Linked DNA regions of Homo sapiens: regions 1, 2, 3, 4 and 5 are each reported to be linked to region 6. Evidence: microRNA targets listed by miRTarBase, many of them from high-throughput screens and not tested one by one. Region 6 holds a microRNA gene; each other region holds the end of a gene's coding sequence.

Region 1 (4,000 bases), not on the chromosome of region 6:
ATCACGAAACCAACTATACGCTACATCTAGTTGCGATTACTGGCAATGTCCCCAATGCAATCCCGGAAAACAAAGATTTGGTGTTTTCTACTTGGGATCACAAAGCAAAAGGACACTTCAACTGTCCAGAGGGTTATTCAGGTATCTTTTTCTGATACCAATACTTTATTTTCATATCTTCAAAGTATCTTCCCACATTATTAGCTATTATCTGCAATGACAACTTTTAAAAATCCGAATCCCAAATAAGCGTTTTCTCTCTAGACGAAAACCTCTTAACTATAATGAAAGTGTTCATTCTAGTTCAATCAGGTATTTTACCTCTAATCTTCCTCAGATTTTCTATTTTTTGGTAGTGTATAGATTATTTATACAGATTATTTAAAATTGGGACTTATACAGATTATTTAAAACTGGGATACATGCATCTAAAACACTGTAATATTTATAAGAAAGGAAGATAAACTTACGGGGAAATACAGTAACAGTAACTACATACGAGTCTGTACCCATTAAATTGCATATCTATCTCCTTTAGGAGGCTGGTGGTGGCATGATGAGTGTGGAGAAAACAACCTAAATGGTAAATATAACAAACCAAGAGCAAAATCTAAGCCAGAGAGGAGAAGAGGATTATCTTGGAAGTCTCAAAATGGAAGGTTATACTCTATAAAATCAACCAAAATGTTGATCCATCCAACAGATTCAGAAAGCTTTGAATGAACTGAGGCAAATTTAAAAGGCAATAATTTAAACATTAACCTCATTCCAAGTTAATGTGGTCTAATAATCTGGTATTAAATCCTTAAGAGAAAGCTTGAGAAATAGATTTTTTTTATCTTAAAGTCACTGTCTATTTAAGATTAAACATACAATCACATAACCTTAAAGAATACCGTTTACATTTCTCAATCAAAATTCTTATAATACTATTTGTTTTAAATTTTGTGATGTGGGAATCAATTTTAGATGGTCACAATCTAGATTATAATCAATAGGTGAACTTATTAAATAACTTTTCTAAATAAAAAATTTAGAGACTTTTATTTTAAAAGGCATCATATGAGCTAATATCACAACTTTCCCAGTTTAAAAAACTAGTACTCTTGTTAAAACTCTAAACTTGACTAAATACAGAGGACTGGTAATTGTACAGTTCTTAAATGTTGTAGTATTAATTTCAAAACTAAAAATCGTCAGCACAGAGTATGTGTAAAAATCTGTAATACAAATTTTTAAACTGATGCTTCATTTTGCTACAAAATAATTTGGAGTAAATGTTTGATATGATTTATTTATGAAACCTAATGAAGCAGAATTAAATACTGTATTAAAATAAGTTCGCTGTCTTTAAACAAATGGAGATGACTACTAAGTCACATTGACTTTAACATGAGGTATCACTATACCTTATTTGTTAAAATATATACTGTATACATTTTATATATTTTAACACTTAATACTATGAAAACAAATAATTGTAAAGGAATCTTGTCAGATTACAGTAAGAATGAACATATTTGTGGCATCGAGTTAAAGTTTATATTTCCCCTAAATATGCTGTGATTCTAATACATTCGTGTAGGTTTTCAAGTAGAAATAAACCTCGTAACAAGTTACTGAACGTTTAAACAGCCTGACAAGCATGTATATATGTTTAAAATTCAATAAACAAAGACCCAGTCCCTAAATTATAGAAATTTAAATTATTCTTGCATGTTTATCGACATCACAACAGATCCCTAAATCCCTAAATCCCTAAAGATTAGATACAAATTTTTTACCACAGTATCACTTGTCAGAATTTATTTTTAAATATGATTTTTTAAAACTGCCAGTAAGAAATTTTAAATTAAACCCATTTGTTAAAGGATATAGTGCCCAAGTTATATGGTGACCTACCTTTGTCAATACTTAGCATTATGTATTTCAAATTATCCAATATACATGTCATATATATTTTTATATGTCACATATATAAAAGATATGTATGATCTATGTGAATCCTAAGTAAATATTTTGTTCCAGAAAAGTACAAAATAATAAAGGTAAAAATAATCTATAATTTTCAGGACCACAGACTAAGCTGTCGAAATTAACGCTGATTTTTTTAGGGCCAGAATACCAAAATGGCTCCTCTCTTCCCCCAAAATTGGACAATTTCAAATGCAAAATAATTCATTATTTAATATATGAGTTGCTTCCTCTATTTGGTTTCCTTAAAAAAAAAAAAAACTCTCATAGGACATGTTTCATTTTGTTCCTTTCAGGAGTAGTAAATTAGACGTTTTCCCCATATAAAGCTTTTTTCTACCAGAAAGATACTTCTGGTAGAAGAAGAGAAAGGAGCTCTTTATGGTTCACACGACTGTCTCCTGTCCTAACTACTTTGCTTAAAGTGCTCAAATTCCATCACTACTCACAGTTGTCTAATCTAAGTCTAATCCCCTTTGATCTCTCAGACTACCTTCCCTTTTATCTCTCTACTACTTAATAATAAGAATATCTTTTTTTCAAACTTGACCTTCATTTTGCTTTCACAATACTATACTCTCCATGGATTATCCCTTATCTGAATCCATCTTTATAACCCTATTCCTTTCTCATATTTAGTACTGTGGGCCAATGGACAACCTTCAATCATCTTTTCTACACTGACCCTCAGACATTCTATCTGCTCTCACGGACTCCTTTATTTACCATGAATAAAGTTCCAAAATCTACATATTCATCCCAAGTCTCTTTCCAGTTCCCCTTCTTACATTGCCTATTTGCCATTTCTCCCTTCAATACCCTATACTTCACTCAAATTCAACATACCAAAAATAAAAGGCCAGGCACGGTGGCTCACACCTGTAATCCCAGGACTTTGGGAGGCTGAGGCAGGTGGATCACCTGAGGTCAGGAGTCTGACCAGCCTGACCAATATGGTGAAACCCCGTCTCTACCTAAAATACAAAAATTAGCCAGGCGTGGTGGCATGTGCCTACAGTCCCAGCTACTCAAGAGGCTGAGACAGGAGAATCGCTTGAACCCAGGAGGCGGAGGTTGCAGTGAGCTGAGATCACACCAATGCACTGGGTGACAGAACAAGACTGACTCAAAAAAAAATAAATAACAAATTCCCCAGCCCCTTACTGCTACTGCTATCCCTTTCTACCCACCTTTCCCTCCTTTATACTCTTTCACACCATCTTCCTCACTTCTTTATATCCATTAATATGACCAGCATGTTCCCAGTCACAGAAGCCTGGAACCCGGAAGACATCTCTGGCTTTTCACTCAACTTTGTAAACTACCTCTTTTGTATCATAAGCCACCAAGTTCAATACAATCTTCTCTTGAAACGTCTCTTAATCTTATAAGCTTTCTTCCCCAAAGACTGTCTTTAACTTCAGTGCTAGATTATATAAGTAGTCTCTTCTTTCCTCCTAATTTTACGTCCCTCTCCCTGTCAATCTTCCGAAAAGGAATTTGTAATGGCTGCATACTGCCTGGACCTGTGTCTTTCAAGCTCATCTACTGAAGAAGTGTAACAGCAGAGGATAATGAAAACAAATCCTTTTATTGTCTGGAGTTACAGGATAAAATAACTTACTATATGCACAAATTTCTTTCAGAATCTTATTGGGATCTTAGCTTAAATCTTAGAATTTTACTTTAAAATTGCATATGAATTGTGTTTTATACTTTATAAATCTATCTTCATGCCTGCAGTGGCTCACACCTGTAATCCAAGTATTTTGGGAGGCCGGGGCGGGAGTACTGCTTGAACCCAGGAGTCCAAGATCAGCCTGTGCAACACGGCAAAACTCCACCTCTACAAAAAATACAAAAATTAGCTGGGTGTGGTGGCAGGTGCCTGTAATCCCAACTACTTGGGAGGCTGAGGCAGGAGAATCGCTGGAGCCTGGGAAGTCAAGCCTGCAGCGAACCATGATCCTAACACTGCATTCTAGCCTGGGCAACAGAGTGAGACTCTGTCTCAAAAAAAATCTTC
Region 2 (4,137 bases), not on the chromosome of region 6:
CAAACAAGAACACATGTATTGTTTCCCAGGAGCTGGCAAACTAGATCTCAAGTCACACAGTTACAAAGAGAGCTCTCATTCAGATGCCGGGCATATAAGCTCAGCTACCCAGAAAGTTCAGCTTTAATGAAGACTGTAGTTTTAGAATGAAAGCCTGAGCAGGAAGGATTTCTGCCCTGGGAATTCTCAATGCTCTGCCTGAGTCACACTGGAGGATGGAGATAGGCTCCTCATTCCAGCGGCCAGCAGCTGCCACAGTCACAAGACCACCCTCCAAACAGCAAGGGTCTTACGATGACAACGGGGACTCTGAAGAGAAGCCAGTCAAAGACACAGGGCTTTGGACAAGATCAAGGGTCTTCACCAGGAAAGCTTAATGCAGAAGCCCCCTCCCTCCAAGTCCCCTCAGCGTGAGCCTTGAGCCTTGACACAGCTGTTTCCACCTGCAAGGGCTGGAGAGGCCAAGTTCACGCAGATGTTCAGCAATGTTCAAGCAAATGATGTGTAAATAGATGAAGTGGTCTTAGAGATGGTCTAAGAGGAGGGAACAGGCTCAGAGAGGTGAGGTGATTTGCCCACGATCCAATGTGAATTAGAGACCATTAGGACACGAACTCAGGTATATTTCCACTCTTACGGTGAATCATAAGGTTCCCAGTAAGTGTAAAATGCTGCAGAGAGGTTAAAAGAATATTGTAACCAACAGCTTTCTGCTTTCATTCTGCTCTGGAATCATTTGTGTAAACTCACAGCAGGAAAAGATAACAGTTTTCTTCAAGTCTGTTAAACTCACTTCTAACATAAAAACATTAAAGAAACTTGACACCATTTTTTGAGTCAGTTAATCCTAATTTGACTGGAATCAGTTACTTGTAAGTGTCTTCAAATTGCTTATGAGACACGGAGTGCTACAGGAGAGATGTGGGTGCTTCTCCCCATTGGTTTTTAACATATTATTCCTGCAATGGAATTGTCCAGATTGATGCAATTTATAGCCTCAATTTGATTCTAAAATATATTCAAATACTCTTTAAAAATTCAGCCTTGTTTTAGCCCAAATAGAACCTTACTAGCAAGAGGGGGATTCATATACTCATCAGAAATGAATGACTTTGGGAAGAAAGGCAAGGACACCTGGAGGAAGGAAAAAAGATGACCTATCTATAAACTGCCACTCCCTCATTTATCAGGCAAGTTTGCAGCTCTGTGAATTCAATGCCTCTGTGCTCTCATTCAGGGACAAACAAGAATTTTCCTGTAAGACAGCCACAGTCACATTCTCATTTCCATGCCTAAGAGCCTGAAGCTTGAACAAAGGGCTTCAGTTAGTTTCATGTGAGCCAAAATGGAATGTGAGTGCCATTCAGAGCCACACACTAAAAAGATTTCAGCTGGGACACTGGCTCCCACAGTCCTGGGGGAGCAAATTCCGGTTGTGTGGCAACAAAGGCTATGCTGCCAGCCCTGCCTGTCCTCCACAGGGGCCACCAGGACTGCCGTGCAGACCAGGCTCCACCCTCCCCCACACCGGTTTGTGTGACAACAGGGCTGTCTTTTCTCTTCCTGAATTTCTGAATGGAGCTGGTACATGGGCCAGCCACTATTTTGTCAGAACAGGTTAAGGGGTGTGGCCTCAGGCATATGAAAGGAGCCTCTCGCTCTTCTGGGGTGGTGATTCAGTCCTAGGAAGTTATTGCTTGGTTTACCTATTCTCATAAAAAGTCTTGATAAATGAAGGTAGTAGTAGCAGAAATATGACTATGAATGTTCTAGATCACAGCTGTAGTTGGGTGAAGGGAAAAGTAACAGAGGAGAGGGGCTAACTTCCAAACTGAGAGGGTAAAGTGCCAGTCTGTGCTAAAAGAACGTGAAAAGGAAACCTATTAGAGAAATAATACACTGGGGGGAAAGTCATAATGATAGAGGCTGGTGAGTGCCAGAAATTATACCAAAGCGAAGTTGAGACCACAGAAATCTCAGTCTCTGAGATAAGGGCTGCTTTTGATGTCATTCGGATGATTTGGTGATTGTCAGAAAACAACTTCTTCAGGTTACAGACCTGGACCCATGCCCACGGGTCCCGTCACAGTCACTTGGACCCGTGCCCAAACCACACCCACCTGTGGCCCTGAGGGTTGGCACTCAGGCGCCCAGGTGGCTCCTTTGATCCCTGAAACATCCATGCAGACCCACTACTTATATTCCAGTCTGTCCTGGAGTCAAAGGAGATGAAGGAGGAAAAATATCTTTTTAAAGTATCCAGGCAATTTTACTCATAGTTCTGTTTAGTTCCAGATAGCAACAGCTGATTGTTCAAAGTGCAGGGTTTTTGGATATTCAAGTACCACAGGATCGGAGAAAAGGAGTACTTGAAACCTAGAGTTGCGTTTTCACTTGAGAAGACACACTTTGGAAACACCTATCCAACAGACTACAAATATAGGCTATTAAATTAAAAATCTGGTTTCAAAATAATACCCACTTAGGTTGGAAATATCTTTCTCCAAACTCAGATCCAACTTTTGAATTGTTTGGTATCAAAGGCAAAGTTAGAGGGACTTGGGTTTAAAAACTAAAATTACAAGTGAGTGCTTAAAAAAAAAACAACTCAAAACATCTTTTTATCAAATAAGGGACACACACACACAAAAGGCAAACGATGATATCTACATGCTTAGACTGGGAGAGCAGCTCCCAGGCTCCCCTGGAGGGATGTTCTCTCAAACCTCAGTAAACTGAGTTTGTCATTGAACTTTGAACCTGGTAGTGAGCTCAGCAATCTACCTGGTCCAAGTCCCCCATTTTAGAGGTGAAGAAATTGAAGTCCACAGCGACTTTGTCCAGGGTGAAAAGCAGAGCCAGGGCACAGCCCAGATGCTCAGCCCACCCAGAGCCCTTCTGAGACATCACACTGTGGTCACACGACGGCAGCTCCATAGCCGGCCTTGCTGCTCTGGAGACCGTGGGAGCTAGAGGACACCCCTGATTATGAATTTCAATAAAACGAGCTGCAAAGATGTTTCCAATTTAAGGGCGCTGTTGAACAGCATTTCCAAAATTTGCTTGGTGATGAGAATCATCTGGGGCACTTGTGAAAAATTAAAATCCCCAGGCTCCTTCCCAGACCCAGTGAATCAGCCTCTCCGAGGGGAGGGACCTGGGAGGCTGAATTTTTAACAAGTGCCTCACGTAACTCTCAGCAGCAGCAAAGCGTAGGGAAATGGTCTCAGGAGACAGGGCGAAAACTTGGCTTGTGACTCAAAGGAATTTCCTTTGCCGTTTAAGAAGCCACACTCTGGCCTGGGAAGCCTGGGTTCTCAGGCTCCCAAGCGGAGCTGTGTCTTCAGCATTGGCCTGGAAGGGTGAGCTCTTTTTAAGGTCTATGTAAGGACACATACAACCACCACAAAATGACATACATCCTTCACTGTTCTCAGGGAAAAGCCTTTTGGTGGCAAAGCAAAATCGCTATTCAGACACATTTTTAATAGGGAAACTAGATGTACTTGGCTTAAAAGCAACCAGATGCTGAAACTGGACAGAGGGCAAGAACTCTGTCACTTGTCACCATGCCTAACAATGCAATGGAGAAAACCAGTAACTAAGCACAAAAATAGCCTGGAGCTCCCAGGAAGAGCTGCCTACTCCGAGACAGGTGTGCATGGTGGGTGCCCCCTGCTGATGGTGTGAGGTCAGATCCAGGTCACTGAGGGAGATGGGAGACCTGAAACAGGGGGTGAGGGGACGCAGCTTCCAGAGGAGGGCTGCTGGAGCGTGCCAGAGTCCGGAGGCCTCACTCCAGGTCGGCCTCCACCTGCTCCGTGTCAGAGCACTGCAACTTGTTACGCTCCCATTGGCAAATGGCGTTGGCGTACTCCACCACCAGCTTATCCATCCATGTCAGGGGCTCGGGGAACAGCACAGAGCCCTCAAAGAAGCCCAAGTGGCCCCCATGCAGAGGCAGCACAAACATGACGTTCTCTCGTTTCTCTGCAGGGGAAACGCAGCTGAGTGAGTTACTGTTCTCTAGTTTGCTCCAGGACAGGAGGTGCAGAGGTGAGCTGGCTAGGGTAGCCTGGCTGTCCCCGCAGGGTCACCTAAGTGGGCATCCAACCTCTACTCACTCTGCCTTGTTCA
Region 3 (4,135 bases), not on the chromosome of region 6:
CAAAGACTAGACCTCATACTTACTTAGTTATGATCCAGCCTTGGACTAAATTTACCAAAGGTTTTTACAAGTGCCTGCAAAACATAAATCTGTCTGGATGGAGGGAGGCAGAGGGACTGGGTAATGATGAGCCTCTGGGTGCAGGGAGAGGATAGGACTTGATGCTTTCCAGGGGAAATATTTAAAATTTCAGTACTAAGTTAAGTCTGTATCATTTTACTTTTTTTATAGTTTCTTATTTTATGTTGTATGAGATGAAAAGCTTGCACATAAAAGATGATAAGAAATTAGAATTCATCGTTTCTGTTGTACCAAGAAGAACCTTAGTGATCTCTAAAAGAATTGTTGTTAAAATATGGATTCTTCTTTCCTTCTAGTACTCCCCTAGCATGACAATGAGCGTGTGATCCATTACCAAGTCTCCTCATGAAAACCACAGTGAGTCAGCCCTTCACAGAACTACTACGGAAGAAAATTATTCATCACAGTGTACAGTTAAACAAAGGAATCTCAGTCACACCAAACCAACCTTTTTATTTCCTGCTCTCTCCCCTCTTTTGTGAAGAAAGCGGGTCCAAATGTGATTCAAACAACTGTACGGAGTGGCATATTAGAATTGCCCTAAACTGAACTGCAAATAATTATGTGTGTATGTATATGTGTGGGAAAGAGAATGTACTGTATATGTGTATGTTATACAGACATATACACATACATACATTGACCCACAGGACATTGTAAAATATTATCACATGACATCTTAAGTAGAAATAAGTAGGGACTTTTATTCCATCCTTTTTTTCACGTTTACATTTTAATTATTACAAGTTGCTCCTGCCCCCTCCCTGAACTATTTTGTGCTGTGTATATCACTGCTTTATATAAGTTATTTTTTAAGGTGAACTCAGATGTTATGGTTTTGTAAATGTCTGCAATCATGGATAGGAATAAAATCGCTTATTTGAGAGCTTTCATTAAATTGCGTCTGATGCAAGTTATCCTGTGAATCACAAAGTGTACTGTCTCAAAAAATAGAAGAAAATGTGTCTTCGTCTTTATGTTGAATCAAACAATTTCTCAGTTACCTTCAGTGAAAAGTATTTTTTTAATTTTTATTTGAGAAAAACACTTCAAATCAGTAAAAGCTTAACTGGGGCCTCACACAGTATATTTCTGCAATAACTGCTTTAAACGGAGTTCTTGATTTGTTTGTCTTAGATGATACAGAAATCATTAAATAGCCCAAATCATTTAGACCATAGCAATAAAGTGACCGGGGTTGTCATATATTTAGCAACATCTTTTCTCTTTAACATGATGAAGCCCAAAAGTGATAACAAAAGCATTTGCTTGAATTTGTCACTTCTCACCAGGAGTACTAGAGGTAAATTTTTAATAACATACTAATGTGAAATGGTATCTGGTTTTTATTCAGACTTTTTGTGAGCATATTCTTATAGACACTAGAAATAAATACATAGAAGGAGACTTTGAGCACAAGGGAGAAGAGAGTTATTAGCACTCCTGAGGCCTCTGGAATGCTGCTTTTCTATCCAGGTATCTTGCTTGCTACCAGCAGAATTGACTGGTATTGGTTCTCACTGGCCAGGGAGCCTCTGCTCTGTTCCTGGAATATAAGGCTTTTATTCAGGAGCAAATCATTGATAGTAACTTTGCTTTATCTAGCCATTGACTTCAGCAGGCTAAAACTACATTGTGTAACTGACTGTTCAAAAAAGAATAAGTAAATTTTTTTTAATCTAATTCCCTTATGGAAAGCACCTTGCTCTATGGCACTTTCCAGATCTTTTGGGATTTTGTGCTTAATTATACATACATACACCAAAATCACAATAGAAAGATATGAAGACTTTAATTTTAGACTCTGAAAGATAACTGGGTGATCCTTTGTGTTAAAATTGTGATACAAACAACCATTGATAAATACCAACTATGAATCCAAACTCTAGAGACTTTGAAAAGCATTGTTTAATTGCAGGTAAGAGGAATCTTCTCTTTCCTTTAGGCTTATAGTCTCTAAAGTGAAAATTTGGCAGGATATAGTCATGCAGCTCATAATGACATTCCAATCAACCACAGACTGCATATACAGCAGTGGTCCTATAAGATTATAATACCATATTTTTAGCATATCTTTTCTATGCTTAGATACACAAATACCATTGTATTACAGTTGCCTTTGGTATTCAGTACAGTAACATGCTGTACAGGTTTGTAGCCTAGGAGCAATAGTTTATATTATATAGCCTAGGTGTGTAGGAGCCTATACCATCTAGGTTTGTGTAAGTACACTCTATGATGTTCAGACAAGGACAATATTGCCTGACAATGCATTTCTCAGAATGTATACTTATCATTAAGTAACATATGACTGTATGTACTAGTTCCTGATGACTTACTTCTCTCAAATTCATAATGATTTAGTCCTTGTAAAAATAAAGATTTTGCCTGTGCCTAAACAGGGATACTAGGCAGAACTGTTGAGAAAAAAAAGCTGAATTAAATTTATGTTGCAGATTTAAACTATCATAAAATGAGCCTCAGTTAATCACACACAGTATTCAGGTGCCTAGGAGTGCACACCGGAGAACAGCCTCATGCTGTCAAGCTGCAGAAACCTTTCATGCAAATTCAGATGAAAAGGTCTTTACCTCAAGCCAGGGTAACCTGAATGAAGGTGATAGTTTGTCCAGACACCTGACTTTACCAAGAAGAATTTTGACTTTCATATTTTATGACAATCATATAAAAATTGACAGTCCTTTGATTATTAAGCTTAATCTTATAATGCTAGAATTTTCAAATATTTTGTTGACTCTTCTCCATTGTTACCGATCTTGAAATTCTTTTCTTCGCCTTCTGAGAAGGTATTATTTCTTATCACAAAGAATGATGAATATGATTTTATCTACCCTTATTTTGGGGGTAATACGAGAATATGAATTGCATCATGATCCCCATTATTTCTAACCTAAAAGTAAAATTCGTTTTTTTTTTCAAGGCAGAGCAGTCAATTGATTATAAGTATTTATTTCTTTTTTCTTCTTGGAGCCCAGATTAAAAAGAGTTATTTTAGATTTAAAAATTTCCTGAAATAGTTGAAAAATTATTTTTGAGGAGAAAATTGTATCCAAGAAACCCAGAATGTAAGGATACTTGATTTTTATATCCAGATAATTCTTTCATGCACTGAATGGAAGACAGTATATCTGTATATTAATTTTTGTTTAGATTTTGAATCATTTAACCCTTATCCTTTTTTCTTGTAATAAGACTATTTAATGTTTTTCTCTTGTGTTTTCCATCTTTATCAATGCATTCGTGTTGGTCTTGATGTATACTACCTGTTCCTAGTGTTATTTTTACACGTCATCTCACAGTAATAATATCAGCAATTCTTGCTGCATTGAACATATTAAATACACATGTAAAATGAAAAAGTAAGCAGTAGGTAAAATCTTGTTACTCTGCTTTGCATTCTGCCTAACTCACTGCATTTGAAAATACATGTCAAATTCTTTCTGAGGGTATGTATGATTCTTAACTACGTGTCTTACAGCAAAGTTGCCCATGGGAACAAAGGCTGTAGGGTGTCATTGATCTTGTAATACAACACATATTTGATGGGTGAATCTTATTAGCACTCCTTTGAAAATGTTCCAGTATGGAGTCAGTTGCTGATAAAGAGGAAGTTCACAGCTAGGAATCCGAAGTTAAGATTTCTCAATTGCCGCCTGGGCACTCATGCCTGTAATCCCAGCACTTGGGAGGCCAAGGTGGGCAGATCACCTGAGGTCGGGAGTTCAAGACCAGCCTGGCCAACCTGGTGAAACCCCCCCATCTCTACTAAAAATACAAAAATTAGCCAGGTATGGTGGTGGCTGCCTGTAATCCCAGCTACTCAAGAGGCTGAGGCGGGAGAATCACTTGAACCCAGGAGGCGGAGGTTGCAGTGAGCCGAGATTGTGCCACTGCACTCCAGCCTGGGTGACAGAGCAAGACTCCATCTCAAAAATAGAAAAGATTTCTCAATTGCCAAAAAGATTAACAAGTAAATCAATTCTGCTCCCCCAGCCATGAAAAGTGCCCAAAACAGCCCTTTCCCTCCAGAATA
Region 4 (4,137 bases), not on the chromosome of region 6:
AATGGACTTACATTTATATTATGATATAATTTTGTGATTATGTCTGTTAAGGGATGAGAACAGCAGTGTGGGTATACTTGATTTTGGGAAAATCAAAGAGAAATACTGCTAAGTATATTTCTAATAAGCCATAATTATAATATCACCTTGCATTTGTATATAATTTTGTATTATTCCATGCATTTTTATATATTACTTTATGTGATCTTTTCAACCAGGGAAAGTTAAGTAGCTTTGTAACATTTCTCCTTTCCCCATAAAACCTAGAAATTTATTTAATAAACAAGAAATGTTGAATCTTCTGTTTCCTAACTGCAGATTTAAACTTCATGGCCTATCCTCATATAAGAGACATGAAATTGTATACATGACCATAAAGTTTTGAAATTACCTAATATTTCTTTTTCTTCGTAAATGACAGCATGATATCAATGGCAAATGCGGGGAAAGTAGACAAATCGATTACCTTCTCGGTCTTTGTTGCTTCTGTGGCAAGTCCTCCCACTCATCTCTTTACATTTTAGTCACCTAAAAAGAATAATCATAACTGAAATCCTGGAAATCACTGTCTATTTTTAACCTAGAATAGACTAACTAATATCTTAGCCTTAAGGTGAATTTAATTGATGCTCTATTTTCTTTCAGAGACGTTTTCTTTGGACCAAAGATCTCTTTCGTGATTCCTTGCAACAATCAATGAGAATCTTCATGTATTCTGGAGAACACCATTCCTGATTTCCCACAAACTGCACTACATCAGTATAACTGCATTTCTAGTTTCTATATAGTGCAATAGAGCATAGATTCTATAAATTCTTACTTGTCTAAGACAAGTAAATCTGTGTTAAACAAGTAGTAATAAAAGTTAATTCAATCTAATTTTTCTCTGTGGACATTGTTGGCATTGGTTAAAAATTTTGCCTAGAAAATGTAATCTATGAGGTGTTCATTATACTCAGTTAAAGAGTTCTGTCCCCCAGATGAAGAGCCATAGGCATGGCTCAAGGATTGAAAATACTTTCAGTCCTTAGTTGACAGTTATTAACCACATATTGAAAGAACCAGGTATAAGCTGAGATTCTTGGAAGGGAGCTAGAAATTTTCTAGTAAGAAGGAAAAAGGGACCAGCCTGGGCAACATAGTGAGACCCCCTCTTTACAAAAAAATTAAAAAATTAGCAGGTTGTGGGTGCCCACATCTGTAGTTCTAGTTACTCAAGAGGGTCATTTGAATCTAGAATTTCGAGTCTGCAGTGAGCTATGATTGCACTACTGCACTCTAGCCTGGGTGACAGAGCAAGACCCTGTCTCGAAAAAAAAAAAAAAAAAAAAAAAAGGAAAAGGGAACAATATTTGAGGGTATATTATGTATGCTAATAACTTTAAGTACATTTCAGGCTGGGACTGGTGACTAATGCCTGTAATCCTAGCATTTTGGGAGGCCAAGGCGGGAAGATCACTTGAGTCCAGGAGTTTGAGACCAGCCTGGGCAACATAGTGAGATCCTGTCTTTACAAAAAAAATTTAAAAATTAGCTGCATGGCGGCATGCACCTGTAGTCCCAGCTATTTGGGAGGCTGAGGTAGGAGGATCACTCGAGCCCAGAAATTCAAGGCTGCAGTGAGCTAAGATGATGCCACTGAACTCCACCATGGAACCACAGAGTGAGACTCTGTCTCAAACAAACAAACAAAAACCAAGAACTTTAAGCACATTTCATTTTACTCTCTTAAAAAACAACAACAAAAGCCTTCAAGGTAAATATTCTCAGCCCCATTTTTCAGCTGCTAACTCAAGTTTAAGATATTTGCTAAAAATCAAGGCAGATTTTCAAGAGTTCCAATTCCAAAGCCCATATGCCACACACAGATGTATCCTTAAAACCATGATACATTTCCTAAAGTATCCATTTTTAAGAATAACAAAACACACATTAAAAGAAACATAATGGATGAGAATTTAAAAGTATCATACATTTTAAAAGTAAATAAAACAGGGAACTTCAAAGGTATTTTCTGATTGTTAGAGGAGACAGCTTTGGATTATGCCCCATAACTTAAGAGGTATGTGACTCATATTGCCATCAGAGGTAATGTCAGAAAGTCTTTCATGTTATAAAAATGTATTCAAAGCCTGCTAAGTGCCAGCCATTATTAAGATCTGGGCATACAGTAATGAATAAAATGGACTTATCTTCTTGGAACTTGTGCTCTAACAAAGGTGTGATTGCTATAAACAAGTAATTATTTATAAATGTGAAGCCTGCTACAGAGAAGTATAGGGTGCCATACAAAGTATTGTGGGGAAATGTTTGAGAGACACCATACCACACAGGCAATCTGGGAGATATCATTTTATGAATAAAAGTGACATTATTTCATTAAAATATATCCTTGGAGGTCCCTGATCTGTTTCTGGAGACCACACCCAGAACAGTATCTGGTATCTAATCTGTGTTTAGTAAGTGTTACTGGGCTGAAAGACCACACCCAAAACAGTGTCTGGTATCTAATCTGTGTAAATAAGTGTTACTGGGCTGGACCAAACAATTTTGAGGTAGTCACAATTCAGTGTCTTAAAGTGTATATAAACACGGCTGGGTGCGGTGGCTCACGCCTGTAATCCCAGCACTTTGGGAGGCGGAGGCGGGCTTATCACGAGGTCAGGAGATCAAGACCATCCTGGCTAATACGGTGAAACCTCGTCTCTACTAAAAATACAAAAAAAAAAAAAAAAAAAATTAGCTGGGCGTGGTGGCAGGCGCCTCTAGTCCCAGCTATTTGGGAGGCTGAGGCAGGAGAATGGCGTGAACCCAGGAGGTGGAGCTTGCAGTGAGCTGAGATCGTGCCACTGCACTCCAGCCTGGGCGACAGAGTGAGACTCCGTCCCCCCAAAAAAAAAGTGTATATAAACACAAGTCAGAACATGTTTTCGAACAGTGTAAGCTCCTATAAAATACATGAAGTGAAATTGTAAAATAATATAGATAGGTAGGTAGATGGATAATATTAGTTGTTTTATCAAGATAGCATGTGATTTGATTGGCCTTTCTTTCTTCACTGAATTGACTGGTAATGAAATCAGCCTAACTCAATAATGAAAGTTTCATATCCATTCTGGAACAATGCATAGAATAGGTAAATTTAAAAAAACTATCAGCAAACCAGTTTTATTTTCTACTTGGTAGGAACTCTCCTTGAGGGGGAAAAAGCATTAAAGATCCAGTGTCTCCATTTACAAATGACACATCAGCATAAGGACATATGTGAGACAACAACGGCTTTTTAGTAAACGTTCCCTTACTACTGCAATCAAAGCCTGGTAAGAAAAATTGTATCTAACAAAGCTAAATATTTAATAAATAAAATTTTATAAATTATTCATCATAATGTCTTTCTGAAAATATGAAATTCAGTTATTTCTTTTAGAAATGAATGCATTATACAAGTACACAGCCTTCTTTATATTACAAAATAAATGTAAAAACATACATTCACACAACTTACCTTATATAACTATTTCTCTAACTTGGTCAATGCATTTTTAAAAACAATAGATTTTTTTTTTTTTTTGAAACTGAGTCTCACTCTGTCACCCAGGCCAGAGTACAGTGGCACAATCTTGACTCACTGCAACCTCTGCCTCCCAGGTTCAAGTGATACTTGTGCTTCAACCTCCTGAGTAGCTGGGACTACAGGCACTTGTCACCATGCTCAGCTAATTTTTGTATTTTTTAGTAGAAATGAGGTTTTGCCATGTTGGACAGGCTGGTCTCCAACTCCTGGCCTCAAATGATCTGCCTGCCTTGGCCTCCCAAAGTGTTAGGATTACAGGCATGAGTTTTTCCAATAGATTTTAGTTATAAGACAACTAAGCTTTTATTAAAATTTTATTATTCTTCTAAACACCATCTTGCAGCAACTGAATGAGATAGGTACTGATATTATCCTTGTTCTATGGACAAAAAAGCTAAGGTTTAAAGATATTAAGTAGTTTGTCTAAGTTTACATTATCAGTGAGCAATTGAGCCAGATTTTGAATATGGCCAGTCTTACACTAGCATCTAGAGTCTTAACCACTATGTTGTTTAACAGCATTACCTAATGCATTATTTCCTTTACAGAAAGGCAAACTTTTA
Region 5 (4,000 bases), not on the chromosome of region 6:
CCGTCTAAACCTCTCTGGAGTGAGGGGAATAGATTACCTGATCATGGTCAGCTCACACCCTAATAAGTCCACATCTTCTCAGTGTTTTAGCTGTTTTTTTCATTAGGTTTCCTTTTATTCTGTACCTTGCAGCCATGACCAGTTCTGGCCAGGAGCTGGAGGAGCAGGCAGTGGGTGGGAGCTCCTTTTAGGTAGAATTTAACATGACTTCTGCCCCAGCTTTATCTGTCACACAAGGCTGGGCACCTCTAGTGCTACTGCTAGATATCACTTACTCAGTTAGAATTTTCCTAAAAATAAGCTTTATTTATTTCTTTGTGATAACAAAGAGTCTTGGTTCCTCTACTACTTTTACTACAGTGACAAATTGTAACTACACTAATAAATGCCAACTGGTCACTGTGCTTTTGCTTCTCCTGTTATCATCTTCCTAAGTGGAATGTAATACTGTCAGCCCCATGTATCAGACACTTGTCTGATGAAGCAGTAAAGACGTTAAGGGTATCACAGGGGGTGGAGGAAGGGATTATCTCTAGTACACTACTTGCTGGCTGTCTGAAAAATTGTCACTGCCAAACTCTAAAAACAGTTCTAAATAGTGACTGAGAAGGTTTGTTGCTGGAGTCAGGGAATAAGGCAGCCAAATACTCTTTGCACAGTTCTTTAGTGGGAAGAGAAATTAACAATAAATATCAAGCACTGTGGTAGGCATTTCATCATTGAATCCTCATAGTAGCTTTTGGAGGGCAATGGTGACAGCCTGACTTCAGAAAGGAGGACACTGGAGCTCAAGGTGATTGATTACATAATGTCTCCTTCAATATTATTCAAGTAGAACTCAAACTCAGTTCTGACTTCAAACCTCATCCTCATTCCCCATTCCTGCTTCCTTATCATGCCATATCAAATCCCCAGAGCCATAAGGCCTATGAAAACAAAGTGAAAGGGAAGGTTCAGGCATTCATTCAGAACATTTTAAATGCTAATTGCCATTGATTTATAGGTTCTCTGTCTCTTTCCTGTCTTTAATCTTAGAGCTGTTTCCTCAAGAAAATGAAGAGGGAAGGATGGCTCAGGGAAAGTTAATCAGAGGGAAAATGTCACTCTGTAAAGAGTAAAAAATTTAGGATGATGATACGATCTGGGAAAAAAAGGCATAGTGAAGACCACTTAAAAACAAACAAAAAAAACCTATGAAGGTGCATGCTATTTCCCCAGAGCTAAAAAGATAAGTGAAATTGTGTTTGAACTCTTAAGTGGAGGTGAAGCAGAATTTATTAGCCACCAACCACATAAGTGATTATGAAGTAACTGAGAAACAGGTAACATTTTTTCCCACATGGACAAAACTTTCTCTTTCTAGAATATTAAGTATCTATGATGAGAAATGAAGTAGCATCTCAAGCAGTTTATAAATCTACCAGAATATTAGAATCACCTGGGACCTTTGAACGTACTCATGCCCAGGTCTACTTTATTCATTTATTTTTTTGTAGAGATGGGGACTTCAACTCCTGGTCTCAAATGATCCTCCCACCTCGGCCTCCTAAAGTGTGAGGATTACAGGCGTGAGCCACTGTGGCCAGCCCTACTAGGTCTGCTTTGGACCAATTAAATCAATCTCTGGGGGTGGAGCCTGGGCTTTAGTATTTTTAAAAATTTTCCTAGGTGGTTCTAATTAATAACTAGGATTGAGAACCACTGACTAACACAGTGGAATCTCATTCCTGGCTATATTTGAAGCACTGAAGCCCCCAGTCCTACCCCAGAAAATTCCAAAGAATTGGTATGAGGTGAAATCTTGGCACCAGTGTTTTTAAAAAGCTTCCTTAGTGATTTTATGTGCAGCTGGAGTTGAGAACATAAAAGCAGTAATTCCAAATTTGGGGTGGGAGAAGGTATAAAGGAAGGGGAAGCTCTTCAGATACTCTGCCCAAGCCCTCCTGTTCACTCCAGCAATGCCCAGAATCACTGCTGCTAATGGGAGAAAGGTTGGGATGGAAAGTTACATAGAACAGCCAGGCAGTAAACGAAGAACTTTTTCTAAGGGGGGTTGGAGAAAAGTAGGAAAAGTAGAAATTGCCAAACTTGCTTTTAGAACTATTTATTCTTTTTTTTTAAGTGATGTTTTTTAAACACCAGCATCAATAGGACAGAAGAAGACATCTGTTTTCCAATTAGCTGTGTCAGTAGATTCCATTCATTGTTTGTAGTTCCCAATCAGCTTTAAAAAAAAAAGTTTTTCAAATTTGCATACAAGTCATCTAAAATCAATAACAACTTGATCTAATTTAGAAAAATGAAAGAGTATCGTTCACTAAAGCAGATCTCTTTTGGGTAGATGGACCATCACAAAAGGAGCTCTTACATGCTTTTCCCACTCCCATCCCAAGTCCACCCTCCCACCAATTGTATTGTATAAATCAATAAAAAGCAAAGGTTCCAGAACAACTGAAAGAAAAATAATTCCAAACTAAGCAGAGTGAACTTTCCATTGGGAATGAAGACCCATGGGAAAAGGCAGCCCAGCCCATAACTCCTCCCTGCTGGAACACACACCGTAGGTGTAGGAACTGCCTGGGAATCCCATTAGAACACACTGTTTCTCAGGAAGAGAAAAAGCTGCATTACAAGAAAAGTTCTCAGGACTTTAGGAGTTCTTAGGACTGTTATTTCAGAGCTATTTATTACTGTTATTACAGAGCTCTTGTTATTTCAGAGCTACTGTAGCCCTTGGGCACAACCAACAGAAAGAGGCAAAGACTGCTGTTTCCTTTGATGAGGGGAAAGAGGTCCAGTCCCTTCCAAATGCCCCAGGACATGGCACAGTAGGGATGTCATCCAGCCCAGTTCTGGATCTGCACCATTTGAGGTTATAGTATCTTCATCTTTGGGACACAATTGCTGTTAGCTGAAATTGTGATTTTCTTAAGTTTTTTCACAGATCAATTAAAATGGTTTTTTTTTTTTTTTTTTTTTTTTGAGACAGTTTTGCTCTTGTTGTCCAGGCTGGAGTGCAATGGCGCGATCTTGGCTCACTGCAACCTCTGCCTCACAGGTTCAAGCGATTCTTCTGTCTCAGCCTCCTGAGTAGCTGGGATTACAGGCGCATGCCACCATGCCCAGCTAATTTTTGTATTTTTAGTAGAGACGGGGTTTCATCATATTGGTCAGGCTGGGCTCGAACTCCTGACCTCAGGTGATCCACCTGCCTCAGCCTCCCAAAGTCCTGGGATTACAGACGTGAGCCACCATGGCTGGCCTAAAATGCTTTCTAGAAGGGATTCTTCTGGACCGTTAACCACGTCCCCAAAGGAAAACCACACACACATTATTTAAGTACTTTCCATCTTCCTAGAGAAATTTAGTTACACTGTTGACTCCTTCCCTAAAGGGGAGGATTGAGGGAGACCTCTTCTTTTGCAAAATGCAATATAAAAAGCCAGGTAAGCAATAAACAGAAAACAAAAGTGAGGGATTTTTTTTGTTGGGTTGTTTGGTTTGGGAAGGGGAGGTGCTATGGAGGTTATTGTTGTGACATGTTGCTTCGAAATCTATAAACCACACAACAGGAACAACTGTTTTTCTGTTTTCTGTGACAAGGAGTACTGCAGGGACAACCTCACCCAGAGCTGCCTGCACGATGGTGCAAACATCTTCTCCGGCTATTCTAAAAGTAACAGGTATTCCTTCAAAGAAGCTGGCAGTGGAAGGCCCTTCACTGCATCGGGGAGATACTGGAGTCCCAGGCTACGGCGCACGGCATAGCGAGCGAGTGTTTTTAGAGTTCCTGGAGCTGAGCACAGAACAGTCAGTTTTTCACATAGCTGCGGGTCTCTGGCCACCTCTCGTGGCATGGTGCCATTTTTCCTCAATTCAAAGTGTCCAACAGCTCTGTGGAGGAGCTCAAAGCAAGAGTCCTCTTTCTCTGTTCCAAGTCCCCTGACTAGCAGAGCCACCAGGCGGGAGATGGGTGTCTGGCCTATTAGGTTGATGACTC
Region 6 (4,137 bases):
AACATTTATTAAAAATGTATTGGGGTGGCCAGGCGTGTAGGCTCACACCTGTAATCCCATCACTTTGGGAGGCCGAGGTGGGTGGATCACCTGAGGCCAGGGGTTCAAGACCAGCCTGGCCAACATTGTGAAACCCCGTCCCTACTAAAAATACAAAAATTAGCCAGGAGAGGTGGCAGGCACCTGTGGTCCCAGCTACTCGGGAGGTTGAGGCAGAAGAATCACTTGAACCTGGGAGAAGGGGGTTGCAGTGAGTCAAGATCATGCCATTTCACTCCAGCCTGGGCAACAAGAGCAAAAACTCTGTCTAAAAAATAATAATAATTATATAAATATATTTTATATATATATACACACACACACACATATTTGTATTATATATTTATATATTACATATAAAATATATATACATATGTAGGCACTGAGGATACAGCAGTGGACAGTAATAACAGCAAAGATTTAAGATTCCTGACCTCAAGAAGCTTGCTTAATATCCATTGACAAGTAAACTGGAAAATACAGCAGGATAAGGTGAGGTCAGGATGCTTTGGGAATGTTCAGGAGGGGCATCTAATTCAGTTTTTGTAAGGTGAGAAAAGGCTTCCTAGAATACAATGACCACCTATTCTGAGCCTGAAGAGGTGAGGAGGAGACAATCTGTAAACAGGCAGTGATCCAGGTAGAAGGTAATACACTTATAGCCCTGGAGGCAGAGAGAACAGGAAACTTCAGAGAAACTGGCAAATAGTATGCGAGAGAAGTGACGAGAGATTAGGCTGGTAAGATATGCAGGAAGAGACCAAAAATGACCTTTGTATGTCATAGAGAAAGCTACAGTGTCAGATTATATCATCTTACATACTTCTTTAAATGTTTTAGTGGTTAAAACAGATTGCACTTCAAAAGGGAAAAAAAGCACACCCTCAAAGATTTCTGCTATAATCACGGGAAAAACTATAGAACTAGTAAACCCAGCAATTAAATACCTCTTAGATGCCTAGAAAACAGACTCTAGCCACAGAAAAACAAAATGATGCTATATCATCATTTGTGTTCATCAGTATTCAAATTCCAACCACACTTTAAGAACTACAGATTCGACTTCAGCTATATAACTTTCTCTGAGTAACTTGACCTACATAATTTTGTTCATATTCCAGATTCCTATAGTAGGTCTAATTTATTTAAAAATCACAAATTGCATATAAAATGTTATATTACTGCTAATTACTTTTTTAAATTGTGATTTCCTCTATTTACTAGACTATGAGCTTCTTCACAATACGGACAGGACACTTAAATGTTTTATATTCCCATCCCCATTCCTCAGGTTTCATGGCCAATGCACCATACCCAATGAATTTTAGATTAAAATGCTTTAGAAAAAAACATGATAACTTCACGAATCCTTATTTCCTCATAAGGTATACATCAAATTATCTTTTACATTTCTTTTGCTTCTAACATTTGATTTGTAGCATGCTTCTGATATTTAAAAAGATAGCCTTTTTTTCTTTTTTAAAAAACTATATCTATTCACATAACACAGACATATATGTTAGCTAGATGAGAATGCCAAGGGAGAGGGTAGAAGAGAAAAGCAGGAGGAGAGAGAAGGAAAAAAGGAGAGGACAAAAGAGAGGGAGGTAGGGAAAAGAAACACAGAACACTTTACCAATAAATCACAGGGAAGTTTTAAAAACATAGTAATATTACGTATGGAAGCATTACCCCTAACTCATCACAAAACCAAAGTTCTATCTTTCAATAATCAAACATCATGTAAATGCCAAAAGAAAACTCTGAGAGCAAATAATGAGCCATGAATATTTCAAATCTACTGAGTTTCAGCTGTGATCAAAAATTTAGTGCTATAACTTAGAAAGACTCCTTGGCAGAGTAGTTACAAGGAACCTCTCCTAATTCAAATATGAGTTTGATTCCAAGCTCTGACAGTTACTAGTGATCTTGACCAAGTTACTTAATCTCTCTGACTCTCAGGAAAATTTTAAATGTATAGATATATATTTTTTAAGTCATGGGGCTGGAAGTGTTAATGCTTCACATACATCTTTATGTAACACTTTACAACATCTCTAGGTAAAAATAAAATGTTAGCTATACAACCATTTTGAATCAAGACACATTTATTCCATATTCTGTCATGTCTACCTGAATCAAGATACGGTTTTTTTCCATATTCTGTCATTTCTACCAGAATCAGGACACATTTATTCCATATTCTGTCATTTCTACCAGATCATCCAACAAACATTAATGTATAAGGCACTGTACTAAGCACTGGGTATGAAAACAACAAAAAGAGAAGGTTCTGTCCACAAAGAGTTTAAAGTGGAGAAGAGTGGAAAAGACTCAGCAGCTAGGATAGAGGGTCCTGGACAGCGTGAGATGACAGATGGCTTCTCAGCTGTCAGGTTCATAGCTGACTGATTGAAGAAAGAGATGGCAGCCCTGGAGTGTTCCTGCACCATCTTCTCGTGGTCCATGGCAGTGGCGGAAGAGGAGCGGGCCCAGAGCGAGAGTGCGGGCCCCAGGAGGGGCCAGAGCAGAGGCCCACCCGGGGGCCGCTCCCCAGCACCGACGCCAGCATCATCGTCCTGTTCCTTTGTCCGATGGGCAGCTGCCAGAGCTGAGGACTGAAGTATACGGAGGCTTCCCTTTCTCTTTTTAAATTCTAGATATTAAGCATAGCCTTGGTCAAACACAGTTAATGGTGATGTTTATTTTATTAATAGAATAAGTCCTGAGGCTTTCACAAAATAATTTTGTTCTGCCAAAAATTAAGAATAAAAGTCTTTACGTAAAAGATGTGTGTGGTGGTGGTGGTGGAAGAGAGCTAGTTTTTATCTGTAAGACCAAGTTATCAGATTAACATGAACATTAAAGAAAAATTCCTCTTCTTAGTGCTATGTTGAACCATAATGATAACAATAATCAGAAACAAAAATAATTCAATTGTTGACTCTACAAGTATTTACTAGCTGCCCATGTGAATGACACTGTGTGCGACACTATGATAAAAATAGTAATAAAATAAGACAGAACTGCTTCAAGAAGTTCCTAATCTGATTGAAGAACAGTACAACAAGCAGGCAATGACAATCCCATCCAATTAGTACCTACAGCAGAATGGGAATGTAGAGGAGGGACCCCTAGTCAGTGTTTGTCATCCCTTTTCACTTCACACACACACAAAGAAGGATAATATTTGCATGGCCAAAGACCTGAGGCAACCTGGTTGCTAGGCCAGTTGAGGTCCTGCCCTATGGGGTGAAGGCATGAGTAGGAGAGTTTGAGAAGGGCCCAGTTAGACAAGGTCAACCACCCACACATCCCTCTGGCTTCTTAAAGTCTAGTAGCTACTGTATTCGACAGTTTAACACAGAACATTTCCATCACCACAGAAACTTCTATTGAATAAAACTATAATCTATAATTCCATTCACTAATTTAAAAATTCTGATATAATACAAAGATTTAGCAATAAATGTAAAAACGCATAATGATGGAATATAATTTAGTAACAAAAGGAATGAACAGCTGATAAATGCTACAACATGGATGAACCTTAATCATGCTAAATCTGAAAAAATCTAGTCACAAAAGACCAAACATTACATGCTTCTATTTATATGAAACATAGACAAAAGGCAAAACTTTAGAGACAAAAAACAGATCCGGATTGTCTAGGGATAGAGATGGGAGGAAAAAAATGACTGCAATCAGGCAGCAGGGATCTTTTTTGGGGTGACAGAAATGTGTTCTAAAACTGGATTGTGGTGATGGCTGCACAACTCCATATATTTATTAAAAATCATTGAATACTTAAAATAGGTAAATGTTATGGTATGTAAATTATACCTCAATAAAGCTGTGAAAACCATAGTACACCAAAAAAAGGAAGCTATTTGTGAAATGGACTTTTCAAAATTTTCCATTTTAGCACCACAAACATATACATATTGCCAGAAATAACGGAACCAAAGTGTCTTCTATAGTAGAATCCAGAGACCCATATAACTCTCTAGTGGCATCTAGTGATATAGGATAAGGCTTTCTTCAAAATGGTTTTATTTCTGAATTTTATACAGTAACAGTATATTAGACAAAAACTAT

The links. Region 6 holds the annotated microRNA hsa-miR-1343-3p (CUCCUGGGGCCCGCACUCUCGC, at 2,537-2,558, opposite strand). A microRNA usually pairs through its seed, bases 2 to 8, with sites in the 3' UTR of a target mRNA and lowers its output. Matches are read on the target gene's strand: a 7mer-m8 pairs with bases 2 to 8, a 7mer-A1 pairs with bases 2 to 7 and ends in A, and an 8mer does both.
Region 1: miRTarBase lists ANGPTL3 as a target of hsa-miR-1343-3p. The part of its 3' UTR that is shown has no 7-base or 8-base seed match.
Region 2: the mRNA of ABHD2 is a reported target of hsa-miR-1343-3p. Seed matches in the 3' UTR shown: 7mer-m8 at 1,413-1,419.
Region 3: miRTarBase lists SSBP2 as a target of hsa-miR-1343-3p. Seed matches in the 3' UTR shown: 7mer-m8 at 3,954-3,960.
Region 4: miRTarBase lists SCRG1 as a target of hsa-miR-1343-3p. Seed matches in the 3' UTR shown: 7mer-m8 at 2,811-2,817.
Region 5: miRTarBase lists ASB8 as a target of hsa-miR-1343-3p. Seed matches in the 3' UTR shown: 7mer-m8 at 3,228-3,234.

What each region holds. Positions count from the first base shown.
Region 1 is chr1:62,604,095-62,608,094 of GRCh38, forward strand. It overlaps ANGPTL3 (angiopoietin like 3), which reads left to right. Exons shown (of 7, transcript NM_014495.4): 6 at 1-141; 7 at 539-2,219. The coding sequence ends at 723. The region is part of intron 14 of DOCK7 (dedicator of cytokinesis 7); the gene reads right to left. Among named protein-coding and RNA genes, the nearest start is that of ANGPTL3, 8.6 kb to the left of the region's middle.
Region 2 is chr15:89,195,080-89,199,216 of GRCh38, reverse strand. ABHD2 (abhydrolase domain containing 2, acylglycerol lipase) reads right to left here. Exons shown (of 11, transcript NM_152924.5): 11 at 1-3,990. The coding sequence ends at 3,794. It also overlaps the pseudogene LOC124903574. Among named protein-coding and RNA genes, the nearest start is that of RLBP1, 24 kb to the left of the region's middle. RefSeq lists a silencer at 1,285-1,579 and enhancers at 3,345-3,845, 3,846-4,137.
Region 3 is chr5:81,416,776-81,420,910 of GRCh38, reverse strand. SSBP2 (single stranded DNA binding protein 2) reads left to right here. Exons shown (of 17, transcript NM_001256732.3): 17 at 378-4,135. The coding sequence ends at 407. Among named protein-coding and RNA genes, the nearest start is that of ACOT12, 25 kb to the right of the region's middle.
Region 4 is chr4:173,384,904-173,389,040 of GRCh38, reverse strand. SCRG1 (stimulator of chondrogenesis 1) reads left to right here. Exons shown (of 3, transcript NM_007281.4): 3 at 646-4,137. The coding sequence ends at 700. Among named protein-coding and RNA genes, the nearest start is that of SCRG1, 12 kb to the left of the region's middle.
Region 5 is chr12:48,145,701-48,149,700 of GRCh38, forward strand. It overlaps ASB8 (ankyrin repeat and SOCS box containing 8), which reads right to left. Exons shown (of 4, transcript NM_024095.5): 4 at 2,089-4,000. The coding sequence ends at 3,666. It overlaps PFKM (phosphofructokinase, muscle), which reads left to right. Exons shown (of 23, transcript NM_000289.6): 23 at 1-704. The coding sequence ends at 8. Among named protein-coding and RNA genes, the nearest start is that of ASB8, 9.8 kb to the right of the region's middle.
Region 6 is chr11:34,940,309-34,944,445 of GRCh38, reverse strand. It overlaps MIR1343 (microRNA 1343), which reads right to left and starts at 2,609; the gene lies at 2,526-2,609. All of the region lies in intron 2 of PDHX (pyruvate dehydrogenase complex component X), which reads right to left.